Regions from separate parts of the Homo sapiens genome. Here region 1 is linked to region 2. The links come from fine-mapping of genetic effects on gene expression. A gene starts in region 2. The other region holds a variant in brackets. All regions are shown on one strand. Distances are from middle to middle. Region 1 holds the start of LOC107986045 (a long non-coding RNA gene). Region 2 holds the start of CPA3 (carboxypeptidase A3).

What was found. PIP is the estimated chance that this variant, and not a neighbour inherited with it, causes the effect.
Region 1: its variant is fine-mapped to the expression of CPA3 in whole blood (INTERVAL, PIP above 0.99).

The regions. Positions count from the first base shown.
Region 1 is chr3:148,931,082-148,944,069 of GRCh38, reverse strand. LOC107986045 (a long non-coding RNA gene) reads right to left here and starts at 7,491. Exons shown (of 3, transcript XR_001740565.2): 1 at 7,415-7,491; 2 at 3,137-3,250. The variant G/A (reference allele first, on the strand shown) is at 7,488.
Region 2 is chr3:148,860,231-148,868,690 of GRCh38, reverse strand. CPA3 (carboxypeptidase A3) reads right to left here and starts at 3,395. Exons shown (of 11, transcript NM_001870.4): 1 at 3,316-3,395; 2 at 3,143-3,218. The coding sequence starts at 3,383.

The DNA.
Region 1 (12,988 bases), 73 kb before region 2:
CCTGTCTCTTTTACTTCAACGCAAACTTAGTTTTCCATAATAAAAAACCTGTAGCTTGACTCTTCTGTAATTTGTCATGTTTTTTGCTATATCACTCCAACCACAGAGGTAGGGATGACATTTGTCATGTTTTTGTTATATGACATTTGTTATATGACATGTTTTTGTTACATGACATTTGTCATGTTCTTGTTATATCATTCCAACACTCCAACCACAGAGGTAGGGACGATTTTTCTGTGTGACAGTTAATATTTTATGGAGGTTGGTCTGGATTCTGGACCACACTGTTGGCTATATGTATTCTTTTCCAGTAGAGGGCAGCAGATGACAGAATGATGAGTCATTAAGATGAACTGTGTTGACAGCTTTCTGGGAGACATGTGAGAAATGGTAGAGGCATAGTTGGCTGGGTGTCATAGTGACTCAGTCATTCAGAAAGCCATATGGTTTATTTGTATTTGTGCAAATTAACAACAGAATGTTTCCCTTTCCTCCAAACTATGGGGATGCAGAAAATTAACTTCTGCCCCATTGTTAGGAATTTCCAAAGATTCCAGTGACACAAATGTAAACACTTAGGAATAGAACTTGTACCAAATAAGAGTTATTTTATAAGACTTGTATACTTTGCACTATATTTCCTTGGAGGTTCTGATTAACTAAATTTGAGGTAGGGCCTCAAGTAAAGTCGACATATCAAACATAGATAAACCATTCTTGCCTTAAAATACATAAAATATGAAAGTCAGATAAAAGGGTACAAATTGTATATACAATTAAAGGGTTGTAAAGGAGCGGTGATTAGTAAAGAAAATACTCAGGAAACAAATTTGACTTTGAGAAAGGATTTAAAGAAAGAAATGCCAGCAGTTTAGAGGAGGGACCTGACAAGATTGAAAACTGGTGCCCACTGAATCCAAGTGAATCCAGGCTGCACAAGGATTCTTTTTTTTTTTTTTTTTCTGGAGACAGGCTGTCACTCTGTCACTCAGGCTGTAGTGCAGTGGCTCATTCATAGCTCAATGCAGCCTGAAACTCCTGGGCTCAAGCAGCCCTCCTGAGTAGCTACTCAAGGCTCAATCTACTGAGTAGCTAGGACTACAGTTGTGTGCCACCATGCCCAGCTAATTTTTTTATTTTCTAATTTTGTAGAGACAGGGTCTCATTATGTTGGCCAGGCTGGTCTCAAACTCCTGGCCTCAAGCTATCTTGCTGCCCTGTCCTCTCAAAGTGCTCGGATTACAGATGTGAGCCACTGCATCCAGTTCTGTACAAGTATTCTATTTGGTCAGCAGAATGCTTTATATTTTTTAAAATTTGTATTTCTGTAGATGGGGCATGCACCTTCTAGTTTGCTACCCTCCTCACCATTCCCTATCATCATACACCTGGCACTTTACACATTTCTCTTTATCTTCCTAGCTCCTGAAGCCATTTGTGACTACAACTTCTGGCTTAGAGGAACTAAGGAGGTGGGTACCAGAGGGAGGAGGCAGTCATCTAGGAGCAGGTAAATCACCTGTAGAGGGTGTGTGGGGTTTATATAAACTGGATTACTCAGCCCAAGGGGCCATGTTGGAAAATAGGTAATAAGGAATTGAAGAAGTAGACAGTGGTGGTGATTTGAAGAGTAGTTTAAACCTTGTACTGCCACACTCCAGGATGAGAAAACCAGAAAGTCCTAGAAGAAAATGAAAGAACTCACCCAGAAAAAGTGCTAGAAAATCTGTTTCTGTTTAATATGTGCTTTCTCTATGGGTTTTGATGACTAGAATTGCTCTGCTGAAAAGTAACAGCAAGTGCCAGAGTCAAACATGATTGACATGTGTGAGTGCTGCCCCTCACTGTCACTCCAGAGCTCCCCACTTACCTGTGTGTCCCAGAAAAGTTAAAGGCTTGAGAGAATCAGCTCCCCACATCCATGACATGGGTCTCTCCTTGTACAATATTTAAAAATATATATTATGTATATATATGTTTTAAAAGTTTGATTTTGCTCTGTCACCCAGGCTATAGTGCGTTACAGCGGTCACAGCTCACTGTAGCCTTGAACTACTGGGCTCAAGGGATCTTTCTGCCTCAGCTTCCTGAGTAGCTAAGACTACAGGTGTGCACCACCATGCTTTAAAACTTTTTAGGAAAAAGGGTTGCCCAGGCTAGTTTTAAACTCCTGGCCTCAAGGGATCCTCCTGCCTCAGCCTCCCCAGTTGCTAGGATTATAGGTGTGAGGCACATGCCTGGCCCTTGCACAACTTTGAGAGCACTATGAAGTGCTAGCATACTGCCCCAGAGTCAGTGGTGGTCCTGGTGCCGACATTGACTCAATGGCTCACTAGAGCCACAGCCATTTAATCTATTGCTCCTTAGTTTTCTCATCATAATTTAGAGGATTGCACAAAGCTGTGTGAGAAGACCCCTTTAGCATTAGCTGCCTATGATTCAAACTCAGAAAAGAAAGGCCAAGGCCCAAGCTGTGAATCAAGCATGTGTGCTCTTGAGAAGAGTATTAGGCACATTGCATATGGGAGGAAAAAATGAGGAGGGGTGAACAGGGGCAAAGAGTGTGAAGTCTAAGAACATTAGACATAGGCTCCAATTCTAATTCCAGCTTTTCCTAGCTGAGTGACCATATAACTTCTCTGAGCCTCAATTTCTTTTGCAAAATGGAGACATTGGTATGTGTCTGGCTGGACTCTTTGGAAAATTAAATGAGATAGTGTTTTTAAGTGTCTGGCACATCTTCACTGCTATCCTCGTCCTCAACCTCACCACATGTAGAAGTTAGTCTTGTGAATATCCCAAACTTCTGTCTGGAAGAGGCCCTCTAAATGAGAAGTCTCAAGGACACAGCATCGAGATTTCATCTCTAGGAGAACCATGGACAGCATCTGTGCTGACAGTTCTTTGATTAACTCAGTTAAAACTTGGAATGGCTAATCTGCTGTTTTCAGGCAGTTTTGATTGCCACAGCATTTTGCTGTTGCACCGTCATCAAAAGAATCAAAGGAAGAATTGTGTTTAGGATCCAGAGGCTGCTTCTGGAGAATGTGGGGAAAATGCTGACAGCTCACTGTGATGATTTGCTGGGGACCGAAGAAGAAAGACGTTCAGACCAAGAAATGGCTCTGCCTACCTGCCTCTGAGGCCTGCAGCTCTTCACTGGAACCTTGTTGCTTTGACATGAGGCATCTTGTCCTCCCCAGAGTCCTTTTTCCATCTCCAGCAGAAGCCGTGTTTTTCCGCACACCTGAGGGATAAGACATGTCTCCCTAAGAGAGGCCTGGTATAGAGCAGTTGCCTGTAGGGAAGGAAGAAAGTTGAGTGGGAAAAGGGATGGTTCTGGGTGACTGAAGAAAACCCCAGGAGGTGTCTCTGTGACATTATCTTTTCCTCTAGAAAACCATTTTCTGAATCTAACCTAATAATAAAGTAATCCAATCAATAACTAAGTAGAAAGGCACATCATGTTAGACTTTCCGTCATCCTTAAGTACAAATCTGTTTTGGAAAGAACTTCGGAGATTTATTTTTAGGGAATGAGATCACTAAAGGTGGTTTCATAGTTTCACAGGATAACACAAAATTTCTTTTATTGATTTTTTTTTTTTTTTGACATGGAGCCTCACTGTGTCATCCAGGCTGGAGTACAGTGATGCGATCACAGTTCACTACAGCCTTGAACTCCCTGGCTCAGGTGATCCTCCTCCTTCAACCTTTTGAGTAGCCAGAACCACAGGCGTGCACCACTATGTCTGACTAACTTTTTGTGAAGATGGGGTTTCGCTATGTTGCCTAGGCTGGTCTTGAACTCGGGCTCAAGCGATCCGCCTGCCTTGGCCTCCCAAAGTACTGGGACTACAAGGTGTGAGCCACTGTGCCTGGCAACTTTTTTTTTTTTTGAATCAAAACGAGGCCCAGGAATTACTGATTAACTTCTAAAATTCTTGGTGGCTTGCTTAAAACTCAGCCATAGATGCCTAAGGACAAAAGAGGCTTGATTGTGGGAGGTGAGAATAAGGCTTGGGATAAAGTGGGCAGTGGTTAAGGAGTTGGAGATTCAGAAGGGAAAGGAGACGCTGCAACTGGTTTTTAGCTGGAAGTGAGAGAAAGAGCACAGATTCCTGCAAGGGCAGAGGAGCACTTGTGGGACTGGGTGGCAGGGCCCAGATTAGGGTGAGGCAAGTGAGACACCCAGGTGCTAAATTCAAGGAGGCACCCACAGTCAGGGCGCGTGAGTGCAGGGGTGGCACCTGAGAGTGAGTGCCTCCTTCAGTGTGGCATCACAGATGCTCGAGTTGTTCATCCTAGTCCAGGCTCTGAGAGTACAGTAAGATGGAGCAACATTTTGTTTTTCCAAGACAGTTTCAAACTTTCCTCCTATTTTGGTTACCCAGAGGTTCTGATAAAAATCGAAATAGCACAACTTTGGGAAAGAAATTCTCCTATGAGTATAGGGCTTATTCTATAGTAAAAATATGGCTCACGACTTACCAAGATGTACACATTTGTGGTTTAAGGTAAAAAAGTGAAAAAAAAATCATCCTCCAAATTAGTGTCTGTTTATATCCCGGTGTGTGGATGGAGAACTAAGATTTTTTCCTCTTTCTCTCTTTTCCTCTACCTTTCTTCTTTTCTCTTTCAACTCTTTCCTTCTATTCTGTCTCCCCTTCTCCTTCCGGCCCAGTTTGACACCACTGAAGTGCCTGCCCTTCTCTTTTTCTTCCTCCTTCCTTTGCTTCCGTTGCTTATAACAGATTCGGAGGGGGAAAAAAAGAATCAAATATCTGTTTCACAGCCATTTCATAAACAATACTGGCTCTTTTCTTTTGGTACCACTAGGCAATGAAAAGCACTGTAGGAGGACATTTGTGACAGTATAGTGATGAATTCATGACGAGTCGGCAGCGTCGACTTGAAACAGGTCCACTGTGTTTCTCTACATTTAGCCAAGACCAAACCAGAATGAATGCCTATGGGTGCTCAGCTGGATGCATGAAACAAAGAGGTTTTCTATTTTGTGATGAAAGGAAAATAATTTGAGGGGGAAAAAAAAAACCCTCTACTCAAACCAGAAGTTTAGTTTGTGTTTGTTTCAGCCAAACTACTTCAAGCCCTGTCATATTTCTGCGGACCTCAATTGTTGCAGAAATGTTTTCAAAGCCTTTCAGGTTTTGTTAAATCTCTCCAGAAGTTAATTGAAAAATGGAGTTACTAACACAGCTTTTCCAACATTGGATCGTAGTCAATCTTTTTCAACAACTTTTCAACAGCTTGAATTTTTGAGCTAATTTCCTTTTTTCAAAATTATGTTTTGAAGTAGATACATCTCATGTGAAATACATTTTCAGAAATCTATTTGAAAAATTGATAAGCATTAAAAATTTCTAGCCTGCCACAATAGGAGGAAAGATGAACATGGCTTATGTTATTCTCCTGTTTCTTGTTTAAACATTTCATGATAAAGAATATGTAACATATTGCATAAAGATAGGAAAACAAACTTCAGCCAGAACTGAGGGCTGGTGTGTGGTTTTGTGGGATGTACACTGCACAACACTGGGAACTGTTCCATATTAGCGCCAGTGTATATTTGTATATTTATTAAAATAATTTCTTGGTGAGTGGCTTGGAAATGTCTTGGAGAAGGGGCTTTCCCACCCCACCCCACCCCGTTAATTTGCAGAAAGGCATCATTTGGGAAGGCAGTGGCTCTGAATCTGAGTTAATATTTATAAGTTTTATTTTTGCTCCTGTACTCCTAGGTTTGGATTGGTTGTATCCTGTTGTGCTTGGGACCTTTCTCCCAATTTGCCGATCATTCCAAATGAAACAACAAACAAACAAATCAAAAAACAAAACATGGAACGAACGATTTTGCATTCTTCAGTTCCTCTGATTTCCATTTTCTTTGTCCTGAGCCTAATGTTTCTTGCTGGGTTCCTTTTCCTAGTTCTTTCTTTATGCCAGATGCTGCTCGAAGTGTGTATGTGTGCCAACTCATTAAGTCCTATGTTCTTAGCCATTTTTTAAGGATGAGGATACTAAGGCTCAGAGAGGGCTGCTTACATAGCTGGTCTGTGATGGAATCAGGATTCCAATCCAGGTAATGCAGCACCAAAGTTCCTAATTTGGGTCAATTCCTCAAGCCCTTGTCCCCTCCAATCTCAACTTTCTCTCACTTTCTCCTGACCACAGCAGAGGTCCCGCATGCCTTCTGGTGGACCCTACTCTCCTTGTGACAGATGAGGACAGGAGGGGGCAATTGCCGTTGCGGGTTGTGTGACTCCAGGGCCATGGCATGCTGCTGAAGCCAGAGGTTCTTTCTTTCCTCCCCCATCCACTTTCTCAAACCTTCAGCCTCACTTTGGCAGGCTCCTCCCTTTCAAGAAACTTATCTTTATATCTTCGGGATTTTACGTGCTAGCCCAATATTTGTGGTACATAGATGGGATTTCTTTATGTTTACTCATTCTCTGCTATGTTCCAGAAATAATGTAAAAGGGGGTCTCATGTATAAGCAAAATAAATTCAAAATGATGAGACAAAATAAGTGGATGAAGAGGGCAGGGCAGAAGGAAAATGAATTTGAAAAGGTCAGACGAAATCATGTACAAGTTTGGTCAACACTACATGTGCCCAGCACATTTGCTGGTGACAGGGAGGGATCTGGGTGGGTGGAGTGGGGTGGGGCCATGTGGAGGGAGAGAGTAGGAAAAATAATGTAACCCAGGAGCACTACTCATGGCTGGATTGACTGGGGGATAGATTTTAGAATATCTAATGTGGTATTTTCCAAAGAATATCTAATGTTGTGTTTTCCAAACCATGTTCTAAGTATTACCAGTTCTATGGAACTTAATAGAAAATAAGAGAACAGTGGGGTGATGGTCATGGTTTGTGGTTTGATGTTTCTTTACTGAGAGATTAAAAAAAAAAACTCATGTACATTGTAAGCCTCTAGGAAGGGGATGGGGCTACAATTATTTCTAGACATTTTGACCATGAGGATCTTTCTTTTGGAAACTTAGAGGACTACTGTATTCGGAAGAGACATTGGGGAAAGGAGTATAGGTGGATAAGAAATGCTTGTCTAAAGAAGTTATCCTAAAAGGGAAGATCAGTAATTTTAAGTATATAAAGGGTAAAAATGTATACACAGAAAAAATATTATAGAAAAAATCAAGGAGAAATGACTGAGAAAGGATGACAGATAAAAGGCTAATTTTTAATATAGAAAAAGTTCTTACAAATCAATTTTTAACATCACCAACCCACCAGAAAAATGGACAAAGGACATGAACAGGTAAAAACAAATACAAATAGTTTATAGACATGTGGAAAATATTTATGCTCACTCACAAATGGAAAAATACAAATTAAGTTTAAAAATGAGGCACTGCTTTTTTACCTACCAGAGCAGCAAAGCCTCAGGAGTTTCATAATATGCTGCATCGGCCAGGGTGTGGGTAAGCAGGAAGCCTCCAT[G/A]TCTGGTGGGAAGATAAATTGGTGTAACCCCTTTGGGGGCACTTTGGCAACCTCTATCACATACATTCAAAATACGGTACAGCTAGACTCTGACCATATTTTTGCACCTCTTCCACTGCCTTCCAGGTCTGAGCCAAGACCTCTCTCACCTGGATTGCTACCCTGGTCTCCTCTCCTGTCTCCCTCCTATCACCTTTGTCCCCAACATCTACTCTCAACACACAGTCACAGAAAGTGTGTTAAAAGCTAGATCATGTTTCATGTTTTGCTCAAATTCTTCCATTGGCTTCCCATCTCACTGAGAGCAAGAGCCAAAATTCCTATATTGGGCTGCAAGGCCCTACCTAACTTGGCCCCAGCACCAATTTGATCTTATCTCTTATTCTGTTCTGGTTCCTTCTGCTCCAGCCACAGTGGCCCCCTTGCTTTTCTTTGAATTTGTCAGCGATCCTTCCATCTTAGAGCCTTTGGACTCAATGTTCCCTCTGCCTAAAACAGGCTTTCCTAGTTATCTGTAGGGCCACATTCCTCACCTCCTCCAGGTCTTTGCTGAAATGTTGCTTTCTCAGTGCAGCCTTTCCTGATCACTCAATTTAAAATCACAACTTCCTGCTTCCATTCCCTCTTACTCTTCTCATTCATCTCTACAGCTATTATCATCTTCTCACGTACTATATGACTGACTTATTTATTGTGTTTTTATCTGTTCCTTACCATGAGAATATAAGCTCCACAAGGGTAGATATTTATTTTTTTGTTTTGTTCATTGATGCACCACTGAACAGTGTCTGGCAAGCTGTCAAATATTTATTTATAAATATGTTTCTCAATATTTATTGACTTTTTATTGAATGGAATTGACCCAGAAATTCCACTTCTAGGAATTTACTTGATGATACACTTATGCATGTGTACAAAGTGACATGAATATTGTTTATTGTGGCAAAACACTGAGCAGTTATCTCAAGATATTGAGCATTACCTGAGGGTACAAATTAAATGAAGACATTGGATAAAGTTTCAAACCAGATAGGACTAAAAGTTGATTTGTGTCCCACTATTTAGAAGGTAGGGGCTGAAGTTGAAGACTAAATCAGTTATAGTCCAAACAAACTACATTTTCTTTTCACCTCTGATTAAAAAATGTGAAATATATACTTGTGTGTGAAGTTGGACTTTTCCTATTGCCTTCGAATTGGTGACCAAGACTCAAGGTTGAGAACAAAGAGGTATTCAGTCCCCACATGCTGAAAGATCCTTTCGATTGCCTTTCAGGTGTCTGACAATTAAGGTCAGACACTTCCGTTTGGGCTTACCAAGAGCAACCATCACCTCTGCTCCCACTTGCTTATATAAAAAGATTAGAGAATAGGTCCAGTCATCAAGGCTCTGTCTTCCAAGAAATACAGAAGGGGCTTCAGAAGACTCACTTGTGGTGATTGGGCCTCCTGTAAGAAGTGGGGTGAGTCTGGCATTTTTCTCTCCTGGCTAGATGGCATTTCTATCTGAAGGCTCACTATGGTATTGCCAAATTGGACTGAAGTTTACCTCTTGGGAATGGTTAACAGGCGTTCCAGGGATTGGAGGCAATCTGAACCCAGGGATTACTTCTTATGTAGAGATTCTTGCAAGCAGGAGGCCTGAAGGAGTCATTTATTGCAGAGAAGTAAGAAGGGATGTGGGGGTAACTTGTATGGGAAAAGGAATAGAACAACCCCATCTGCAGCTCCTCATGTCCTTTGGAAAAACGGAAGATTCATTTACAGGGTATTGGATCTAAATGTAAAAGAGCATGAGGGAGAGTTCTGAGTACACGGAATGAGATTGTCCAAGCAGCCTCTTGTCCTAGCGGGTATATAGGGGCTGGGGAATATACTAGTTAGCTAGAGCTGCCATAACAAACTACCGCAGACTGGGTAACTTAAACAAAATACATTTATTTTCTCACAGCTATGGAGGCTACAAGTCCAAGACCAAGGTGTCAGCATGTTGGTTTCTTCAGAGGCCTGTCTCCTTGGCTTGCTGATGGCTCCCTTCTTGCTGTGTCCTCACATGGTCTTTCCTCTGGGTTCCTACAGCCTTCATGTCTTTGTGTGTCCAGATTTTCTCTTTGGAAAGGATCAGTCAGGCCAGTCAGATTGGATTGAGGCCCACCCTAACTCACTGAATCACCTACATAAAAGTCCTATCTCCAAATATAGTCACATTCTGAGATACTAGATTTCAGGGGTTCAACACAGGAATTTTGGGAGGACACAGTTCAGCCCATAACAGGCTCCTAGTCTTTTAGTGAGTCTGCCACTTTCTGAGCTGCCTTCTAACAGCAAGAGGAAGGCATGGTGGAGTTGAGCACCATTCCAAGCAAATCATCCCACATATGAAGAGACCTCTCCATTAGCAGAGGCTACCAGTAGCAGGTAGAACAAGATTGAGCCAGAGGAATACTAGAGGAGCCTCCCAAGCACCCACTGGTTACCAATGACCCAAGAGCATCTCTTCTTCTCCTATTTCTCCTGCATCCCCAGCTCTCAATCTGAAATGCCTGATCCAGAAAACAAACAAACAAACAAACAAACAAACAACCCAGACTCTCTCCTTCTTCCTCTACCCAATGAATGAGATCAGCCTCTTCCTAACTCCAAGTCATGTGAGGCAATCCCAGGAAAGATCCACTGGGAAGAAGAGAGGAGATGAAATTTAAACTGGATATGAGGTGGGAGTTCTAAATCAAAATAAGGTGAATTTAACTGAAAGTGCCAAAGAAGTTATAGGATCTGCCTAAGAAGTTACGTAGAAAAGTTTTTTTTTTCAGAGCTCAGATGAATATAGGGATTGAAAAAATAAAGCTATGTCAATTTAAACTTCACCAAATTGATATTTCTCAATAAATTGAATATCTGTTTCTTTCTATGGATATGGAACCATATCTTGGAAAACACCACAAGCTGTTTTTAGGAATTATCTCTAGGGAAGGGGAAGTTATGGACCAGAATTGGTGTAAGAAGAAAATGTGCTTTCATTTTAAACCCTTTGAACTTAAAAAAAAATTACCATGTAGATGTATTACTTTAAAAATACTCAAGCAGTTTAAAACTAAAGTAATTAAAACAGTATGATACTAATGGAGAATGCTGTTAAGAAGCAACCCTGAAAAACGTCAACTCTAAGTTGAAGGAGTTTCTTACCAGTGGGAAAAATAATTGTTGTAGGTTGAACCAGGGAAACACGTAATAGGAAGAAGCTAGAATTTCCTGGGTTTGAGATGGAAACCTGTTCTATAAATGTAGAGGAAGACCTGTAAAAGGAGTGGGAGAAACCAGAGACTTGGAATGTAAGAAACCATTGTGAGCCGCTGATGCTGTTGCTTGAAGGGAGATAAATGTTGTGACAGATGTCTGCAAAGCTTTTGGCAAGGAATGGGGTTCCATTTGGTATGGTGCATTTCAAGGTTAAGCTCTTCTGTGTCATGTAGATGTGGCAGGTTTTTGGCTTAGTGCTGAACCATGGGGTTTGGGATTTATATAATTGTAGAAAGCATTAAGTCAAGAGGCAATGCAGAATAGTTTGGCTAGTGACATTTTATGTAATTCCTCATGCATATGTTTAGGCCGTAGAAATCACCCCTAAAATACCAGGAAAGGATTCAAGAAAAATGGGAAGAAGAGTAAGAGGTCATTATAGTCTATGCATGTGTTAAATTTATGTATGGGTTGTTCATTTCCCCGTACATGATTAATTCTATTCTTGAGAGTGTTGAGTAAATTAAAATAATAAAACCATCACAAAGGGATTCTCTGTGTGCAGACAGTGACTTGAGAGGGAGTTATAACTCTATCATCTTCCTGGAACTGAATTAGACTAGGAAGAAAGGAGTTCTGATGAAATGAAGTGTAAAACAGGACAGCAGCCTGGATGCAATGAAGGTGGCTAATGCACACTAATACCTGCCACAGTTGTTTTCTCTAATATTTGAAAAGATGAAGGGGGAAAGTTATAAAATGCTAATAAAATCAGTCAAAAATGCAGTCTTTGCCTAATTTTAAAAGGAGTCTTTGCTGTTGAGGAGTACACTCCAAGAAATCTACCAGAGCTAAGAAGTGTCACTGTTGGCTTTATCCTGATGCTTTTCACTCATTTGAGCCTCTGGTTCTGAGATCAGGCCAGTGATGTTGCAAAAAGGGCATTTCTGCAAGGAAGGACTCACATATCAGCTCCCTTTGGCCCATACAGACTCCATTTCCATTGGATTTTAACATTTTAAGGTTAAAGGAATACCTGATGCTTTTTTGTTGTTTTTTAAAGCCTAGATGGTGTGACATGTCAAGAAGCTATTTTGTTACACTTAACAATGTTTTGGCTGTTTGGTAAGACTTACAGTTCTGGAAAGTTTTTGTTTTTGGAGAATCATCCCCAAAAATGCTAGAGCACCCGCTATGGGAAGCTGGAGAAGAGGCTGCTGTAAAAGAGGAAAGAAACAAGGTCTCCAGCTTGCCCTCTCATGTTGTAGGCTTATTTGACAATTCCGAGGTCAAGAATCCTGAGGAGCATTTTAAAGACAATAGAAAAGGATGTTAGATTTAGTAGATATTGGTTTTCTTTTGCTTACCCGCCATACTTTCTCTCATTTTGAGGAGCCTCCCTCCTCTAATAATCAAGTTGCTTTGGCTGAGGCTGCCTCACCCTCTGTTCTGGGAGAAGACACTTGACATAGGTCTGAGTCAGTTAATAAACTCTACCTGGTCACATTGGTTGCTTCTGGCTTCAAGTGAATCCTTGTTTCTTGGGTAGGACTGACCCGGAAGGAGAAGTGCCTCTCTCTTTTGAGGAACTTGAATGAGAAAGGAGGTAGTAGGTTGGAACTCTGCCGCCCTGTTGGTAGTGCTGGTGAGCCTCTCTAGAATGCGGCATTACAGAGGAAGCATGGAGAGAACGGGATCCTGATGAGTTTTCAAAACTTTTAATTCAGCCATGTCTAAAACCAAGCCTACAAGATGACATTTTCAGTAATGTGAGTTAATATATTCTACCCCTCTAACCCTTTATTTTGTTCAGCCGTTTTGAGTGAGGGCTGTCTTCATGGAAGTGTTCCTACTTGTTACTGTAAAGTATTATGAGGCGATTACAACAAAAATTTGAGATGCAGAATAAATTAAAAGGGAAAATATCTAAACATGATGATTAAATCTCAATAAAGACAAATGATTGGGCACTAAAATTATAGATAAAATAAGTAATTTGAAATAAAGATACAAAGAATCATAAGTTAAAAATATAATAGTAAGAGAGATAAAAGATTAACATAAAAGACTAAAATCCATGATATAAAAGTTGAAAACACAAAAGTAGAGAGAATTAAGGACTAAGAAAAGGAATTGAAAACAATAAAGGTAAAACAATATTAAAAAGTTCAGAAGAATAAAATGGATTTGGAGAAATATCTTAAAAAGAAAATGAAAACAAAATCTTAAAAATTAGAAAAAGAGGTAAAAGAAAACCAGTAC
Region 2 (8,460 bases):
TTTTTTTTAAGGACTTCAGGTCTATCAAGTTAAAAAGGATGGGCAGATCTTTTGGTTAATTTTTTTCTTCCACAATTTTGGGATTGAATGGGATCACAATTCATCTAGCCACAGAATCTGCCTCTAATTGGAAATTTAAGTTAAATATCTGGTTAGTTAGTCCTCAAAACCTGATGTCCCTATAAACTCTGGAAATCCTGATACAAGATATTGTATCAAACAGTTGGCATAGACCCCCAGCAAAGTCATTTTTCTAGCAATATGTCCTTGGGCAAGTTACTAGGACTCTTTAAATTTTACTCCTCTCTCCTGAAATAATGGGGCAAATGAGGGTCCACTGGGAAGTGTTGTGAAGATTGTGAAATAGGTCTGAGGTCTGGGGCATGAAGACAGTTAACAGGTGCAGATTTTTTTTTCCTTTCTCTTCCTCTAGCTGACAATTTCAAAAATTTGGTATATGAGCTCAGAAGTATAGCATTCAGATCAAAATAATTTCGAGGCTGGGTGTTGTGGCTCACGACTGTAATCCCAGCACTTTGGAAGGCTGAGGTGCGGATCACCTGAGGTCGGGAGTTCGAGACCAGCCTGACCAACATGGAGAAACCCCACTTCTATTAAAAATAGAGAATTAGCCAGGCATGGTGGCACATGCCTGTAATCTCAGCTACTCGGGAGGCTGATGCAGGAGAATTGCTTGAACCTGGGAGGTGGAGGTTGCAGTGAGCCGAGATCTCGCTATTGCACTCCAGCCTGGGCAACAAGAGCAAAACTCTGTCTCAGAAAAAACACAAAAAACAAAAACAAAAGCAAACATTGAAAAGATTCCAGTTCTTGTGGTTCTTCAAAATCATACTCAATTGTGAAACTAAATGAAGTACAAGTCCCCAGCCTGGGAAATGTGAAGGAAAAGCTCAATTTCCACCCCTGCTTGTGTATGTGTTCAGGTCTGCCTGGCTGTTTCTTGGTTGAGTCCCCCTCTACCTCGAGGTCAATCAAGTGACAATATGAGGCTGCTATGAACCAACCAATGTTTATTTTGATCAAAAAGCTACATCATGAGTTGGACATATGAGAGATGTAGTGTGATGCAAAGGCAAGTTAGGCAGAGCCATCTTATCACAATAGACATTTCTGTGTTCTAGCAGGGTAATGTGCAGCAGGAGCTTAGAGCTTAGTGAACTTTCATGTATTAAGCAGGAGGCAAAGAGCTGGGTGCCACAGTTGTAGAGACTAATAAGGGACTTATGAGATGTGAAAGGTTTGGTGTGGAACACAGAGTCATACATGCATGTTTCCCACATGTTAACCAATGCCAGAGGAAGGAACCGGGTATTCCAGGAGCACAAGGAGCAGCCAAAACTGAGTCACGAGAGTTGATGAACAGAAGAGACGTCCTGCAGGAGACACTGCCTGAGTTGGATCTTGAGAAATAAGTAGGACTTACCCAGGTCAAAAGGGAGAGAAACACATTTTCATGAGAAAAGATGTACAGGGCCAAGGTGGGTGAGATTTTGGTGTTTATGGGGCTTGAAGGGTGTGGAAGAAGGTGGAGGAGCAGGATATTGAAGAGGCTGGTAGTTTGGCAGATCATAAAACGCTTTGAATGCTATACCAATACCAAAAGAAAATGCTTCTGACTGGGCATGGTGGCTCATGCCTGTAATCCCAGCATTTTGGGAGGCTGAGGCGGGTGGATCACTTGAGGTCAGGAGTTTGAGACCAGCTGGGCAACATGGCAAAACCCCGTCTTCACTAAAAACACAAAAATTAGCCGGGGATGGTGGTGGGCACCTGTAATCCCAGCTAATAGGGAGGCTGAGGCAGGTGAATCGCTTGAACCTGGGAGTCGGAGGCTGCAGAGATTGTGCCACTGCACTCCAGCCTGGGTGACAGAGTGAGACTCTGTCTCAAAACAAAAACAATAACAAACAAAAAACGCTTCTATGGTGCTTAATATGGCAGGCCTGCTTCTAAGTGCTATCAAACGCTTACTTAGTCTTTGTAGCAACCCTAGGAAGTAGCTATGACTATTATCCCCATTTTATAGCAGAAGAAATTGAGACCCAGAGATGTTGAGTAAGTTGCCTAAGGCTACAGAGCTAGCGTAGAGCTTGGATTTGAATGTAAGCGTTTGACTTTGAAGAAAATGCTTTTTCCGTACTAGGCTGCTTCTTAGTAATGACCCTCAAACGGAGGAATGCAATTGTCAAGTTTTAGAGTGAGCAATCAGGTTGCAATGCAGAGTTGGCTTTGTGGGAGTCAAGACTAGAGCCCTGATTGCTAGTTAAGGGACTATGGAAATTCTCCTTGCAAGAGGTAGAGTGAACATGAACTTGGCAGTGGCAGTGGAATGGAGGGCAATGTGTGGATTTGAGAAACATTTGGGAGTTAGAATAGGCAGGGCCTTTGATTGATTTGATGTAGAGGTAACTGTATGTTTGACTGGAATAAATCCCAGACCCAGTTCTGGGTTTAAATTTGATGTGTAATCTTGGTCATTTAATTTATTGTCTTTGCACTTTAGCTCTTCTGTTTCAAATGAGTTACATTATAACCCTGACATTGAGAATCTGCTGGAGAATTTGAAATGGCATATATAAGGTGGCTGGTGCAACATAAATAGGAGCAGCTGAATACATGATAAAATTATATTAGGCTGTTGGATTTTAAAGGATTGATCTAACTTTAAAAGTCTTATTTGAAAATGTACCTGCTCTTGGAAAGGGTCACATCTTGATATTAGCCAGTGCCTCAACGTTTTCAGTTAGTACTCAAGAGAAATTATGGCACCAGAGGAGATGAGGGTCGGAGTGGGGAGAATGGAGAGGGAATGGCACCCGTAGGCAAGAGAAAGATGCCCTGATAAGGAGGCCAAGAACAGCTCCTGATTTCATAGTTTTACCTTGAAAAAGCTGGTGTTTGAAAAGCTTTTGGGAGGAAAAACAGAAGTGGTAGTCTTGGAAACCAAGACCAAAACCAGAACAGGTGAAGTATTGGCCATTGGCTGAATTATCCAGATAGCTCCTGCTTTCCCCTTATGTTCAATAGTCTTTTGTAGTCCCATGGGCATTGACAGTAAAATAAGAAGAAGCATCTTTTAGAGAACAGTAAGAAAAGATAAAATATCCCTCTAAATGCTTACCTCATTGGTTTTGGCCAAGTCCTTTATGATGTCTGCTTGTTTTTCATCCTGGGGCTTCACGCGGAACACCTTCTCCCTTTGTGGAGGCAAATGAAAAAAAAAAAGTGAACTGTAAGGAAACAACCTTTAATTCTCTTCTACACAGAGACTGGAACACAGGAAGTAAGATTTACCTGTCAAAGCGGACAGGAGCAATTGCAAGAGTGGTAGCAATCAAACCCACAGGCAGGATGAGCCTCATGGTTCTTCTTTGCCTGCCTTGAGACCCTCTGGCAGTTTTATGCCTCAGCCCTTATCTTGATGAGCAGCTGATTTCCTCTTAGGGTTCTGTTGCACAAACTGTTCCCCTTCTTCCCCCACACCAGGTTTTTTTTTTCCAGCTGGAGAGGGAAAAACACTAACCCACCAAGCACATGCTACTTATCTACCTTTTGCAATAGGAAATACCCATTTTACAGATACAGGATGGGAAGCAAATGCCTTTAGCAAATAACTTGGCCAAGGTAACAGAGAAAGTATGTTCACAGAGCTGGGATTTACTAGTTCTATCTGTTCTAAAATACTACTCTACCATTCTGCTTGAATTGAATGATGGAAGAAATTAGTTTTAAAATTTGCACTTGGAGACTGAGATGAATTTGGGTATCTGGCCATAAAATCTTGGTGAGTGGTTCGTAATAATGTAAAATATATTTTTGAAGCTAGAATGTAAGTTGTGAAATTAAAAACATTTAAATTGACTGGGCACGGTGGCTCACGCCTGTAATCCCAGCAGTTTGGGAGGCCGCGGCGGGTGGATCATCTGAGGTCAGGAGTTCAAGACCAGCCTGGCCAACGTGGTGAAACCCTGTCTCTACTAAAAAATACAAAAATTAGCCGGGCGTGGCGGCAGGTGCCTTAATCCCAGCTACTTGGGAGGCAAAAAAAACCCCAAAAATTTAAATTACAAAATATAAATGTACTAAAAATGCTGTAAGTACTATGGCGAACATTGAAATGTTCACCATTTAGATTTTACAATGATAACATTTTTGTTATATTTTTCCTGTACTTCTCTGGGTAAAGAAATAAACACTAAAGACCTAAAGCACTGCCCTAACTCTTTGCCCTTCTCTTCTCTCTGTCCTCAGAGGTGACCCCTATTTCTAAGGCAACTTGAGAACTACCTGACAGCAAGAAAATATCAATGCTGTAATGTTTATTAATTGGACACTGTCTTCAGAGCCTGGATGCTGTAATTGCCAAATAATGCCTTTTGAGAGTTGAATTAATGAAAGCCACCTATAGACCATTCACAACCATCTCTGGAGGGATGTTTAGTCTTGAACACAACTTGGTTAATTATGGGAGAATAACACCTTTACCTAGAATCATAGGTAACCTAAAAGAGTAAGTGAATTTATCTAATCAGTTAACTTATTAGAATTTCCTTTTTGAAAACCACCTCTTCACATTGACAAACGTATAGCTGACTGTAGATAAAACTTCTCAGAGTCACGCTTATGTACTATCAAAATAGTGTGGTTGGAGACACGCCCCTGTTATATATACAGCAGCAGTAATTCCATTCTTCTCTATCTGATGGGTGTGTGGTAGAACTCGGGACTTTTTTTTATTTCCCCAAATGGATTTTCCGGCTCCAGCCTTGCAGGTAAGGAAGAGGAGGGTTTTACAAATGCCTTCATGTTCTTGACACTGGGCAAGCTCACCAGCACTGAGAACTCCCAAAGCAAATGCTTGCTCCATTGCTTTTGACTAAAGATACTTTTGACCAGGGAACAGTGAAAAAGAAAGACCTTGACTTTGGGTTTCGACAGACATCACTTCAATGTGGCTCCCACACGCTAGCTACATCCCCTTGAGCAGGCTGCCTAGTTATTCTGGGCCTTGGTTTCCTCATTTGTAAAATGGGAATGCTAATGTGACTCTAACAAGTGGCTGTGAGGCTTAGTGAGACAGGATATGTTAGGGACTTCGTGGTAGGTGCTAAAAAACACGTCCATGCTCTCTAGACAGTTGATAAAATGTTCATGTGCTGTCAACAGAGACTTCCAGTGGGCCACTGCCAGCCTGCAGAACCGGTATCAAAATAGATCATGTGGTAGATTAAAGTGGTGGCCGTGACCTTTAGGGATAAAATATGTCTCTGTATTTGTTTTCATGTGGACTACTTCAATAATTTTTTTTAATGTTATAGCTTTGCTTTTTAGAGTTTTATTTTCTGATTCTAAAAATTATAAATGCCCATTGAAAATGATTCTGGAAAATACAGGAAAGGTGAAAGAGGAAAAATAGAAATCCTCTTAATTTTAGAATTCTGTTATATTTTCTTGAAGCTGTTTCCTCTGTGACTGGTTTTAAAATTGTGTGGAGAAAGCTTCTATGTCTGTTTTTCAGGTCAAGTAGGAAGAACACTTTTATTTTATTTGGGGAATCTAGGTGAGTGCTTTGAGGACTTTGGTATTTCTCAGGATAAGACTTTGTTAATAAATAAAAGTACATCTTTGGCTTCTTAATAGATTACATATTGGCAATTTCTTCTTTCTGGAATATGATATAAACATGTGATGTGTTTGAGACTCCCACTGCCTCTCCAATCTATTTAGCCTCTGAAGAAAAATACAATAGATGGATTTCAATAATGTTCTAGAGCTTTTTCTCAGAACAAGCGCTATTTCTTGGCAAGCATAGATCAGTGCTGCCTTATATTACTGCATCAAGATTTATAAAAGGTCTTGGCATATGTGTGGGTAGGATGAATAATTGTCAAACCCCGTATCATTTTAGGATTGACTATGTAAGACTGTGATGTTTCACAGATTAAATCAACCTCTTTAAAAAGTGACTTAGAGGTGAATACTTCATGCAGCCATAATTTTCCATCTTTCTTGAGCTCTGCACTTTCTATGGTATTTGTAGTAGTGCACGTCTAGCCATGATTTAAAATATCACCATATAGTTTAGCTATGCTTTTCTCTATATATTTTTAATCATTATCACTCAGCAGAACCCTTTTTGCCCCCAAATTAACATGTTAACTTGCTATGGTCTGCCTTCTTTTCCTTCTAGAAATTCTCTCTTTGACCAATTCATATAGGTCAGCTTGCAGAATAAGATGAACAAATGGCATATGATTCTAGGTATGTAGGAATTCCATAATCCAGATGAGAAAATCAGTCTTGCTATTTTCTACCCACACCACTTGAGAAAGAAAGATTCAGGGGCTACTCTTGTGCTGTTGGTTCACTGTTGCTTTGGGAGCTGAGAGCTTGGAGCTGAAGGAAAGGCTCAGAGCCTGCTCTGGGATCTCAGGGTGGGAGTGGGATAAAAGAGGGAGAAGAAGAGGTATCCCCCCAACCTGGGGCTCTCAGGTGGGCAAGGCTGGGTGGACTCACAGCAGTCTCTGATTAGCTGGTCAGATACTACTACAGTGAAGACTAAGGCAGATTTCTCTTTCTGTTTTTCTTGGTTTTGCCCAGGCAAGTGGAAATTCTACCCAGCTTCCTGTTAACTTTCAGTAGACAGTGGTCATAGTAAAAATTTCTCAGGTGCAGGACATCTCAGATACATGGGATTTCAAATAAGAATATTTGCATATTTGCTTTCCTATTCTTTGTTCTTACCCTTAAAAATTCCTTGGAATTTTAAAAAAGCAGTCCACATATATTATTCCTAATTTCTATTTTAAAGCATTCAATTTAGGGAATTAGGAGAGTTCTTTGTGGTTTGCCAAGATTTCCATACTTTGGGCCACAGCTTCCCTTAGTCAGGGGTTGGTGTTACTTGCCAGAGATAGCAAGGGAGTATCCTGTGGAACAGGAGTTTAATGATACACCTCCAGCAAGATTACCTCACTCAGGTAACTATGGCTATGTTAGCCCTCCAATACACAAAGTGGATATAACTTAAAGAGTAGGAGGAAGAATATTTAGCTAAATTACATCTATTTTTAAATTACCACCAATGTTGCTGACAAATTAATGGGATTTTTTTTTTTCACATATGGTTCTCTGTCTATTTAAATGATGTATTACTAAATGAGTTTGAAGATGAGTGTGTGACACATTGTAGCAGCTGCACTGCTACCACCTAGTGGACAATTAATGCAATTAATTATTCTTTGGCTTGACAACTTTCACAAACCGTTGTTACTTCAATGGATTCTCTTTATGAATAGAACACTGTTATAGATATTTTAGCACATCATGCCCTCCCTATATGGAGTCTCATTTTTCTTGAAGCCATATAGAAAGTAATAAGTTAAGAGTCTATGAAAGTAGACTACAGAAAGTCTATAGAAAGTAATGAGTTAATAGTCTATCATTTTTAAGTAAGAGATGCCCCCAAATCGTAACTTTAATACATCTCATTCTATTTTAAAATTTGAACTTGGCACAATACTTCCCAACACAGCATGTCCAATTCCAATCCCGGAAAACATCAAGTTCTGGAGTGATTTTTGCCACTTTCATTGGTCCAAGTGGTCCAGTCAGGGTCCCTGGTATCCTCTTGTCTCACTTCTGATCTGCTTTCCACACCCTAGCCTAGTTGGTGTTCCAAAAACACTGTAACCATGTCATTGATGACTTAATATCTTCAATGGATTTTCATTGTTCTTAGACCAGTGTCCCCAGTCCTTAACGTGACCTCTAAGCTCTGCCTGACATGGTTCCTACCACCCTCCCCAGCCTGTACACATGCTCCTCTTTCCTCAGCTCTCCAAATTTCACCCTCACTGGCTTTCTTCTTATACTTTTGGGATAGCCACAGGCCTGGAAGCGGTGCTCCCTTTGTCTAGCTAACTGTGACTTATTTCTCAGGTTACAGCAGTTTCTGAGGGAGGCTTCTCCCGTACATCAAGCAGGTAGACTTTTTGTATGTTCTTTTTGTGTAGTTCATCCAGCACTTATTTGATTAATGTAAATTAGATTACTAATTAATAAATTGTTAATTAATGAGTTAATTATTTGTGTAATGTCTGTCTTTCCAAAGGGCCTATACACCCATTAAGGGCAGAAATGTTATCTTTCTTTTTCATTGTTCCATCTTCAATTGCTTAGCAAAGTGCATGGCATGTAGTAGACAGCCGATAAAATAACTTTAATGAGCTGAGATGAAAGCTAGACCAAGAAAGATGGTGTCTTTTCATGTATGCCAGGTTTAACAGTCCTAAATTTCCCTTTACATTTCTTCTTAGCTCACAAGCCTCCCACTATAATCAGTGCATCTACACCCTGATGGTCTCAGCCAGCACCCCAGGATGTTAACTCCTATACAGCTGACCGGATCCTCACTGTGCACGGCTTGCTTAGTCATTC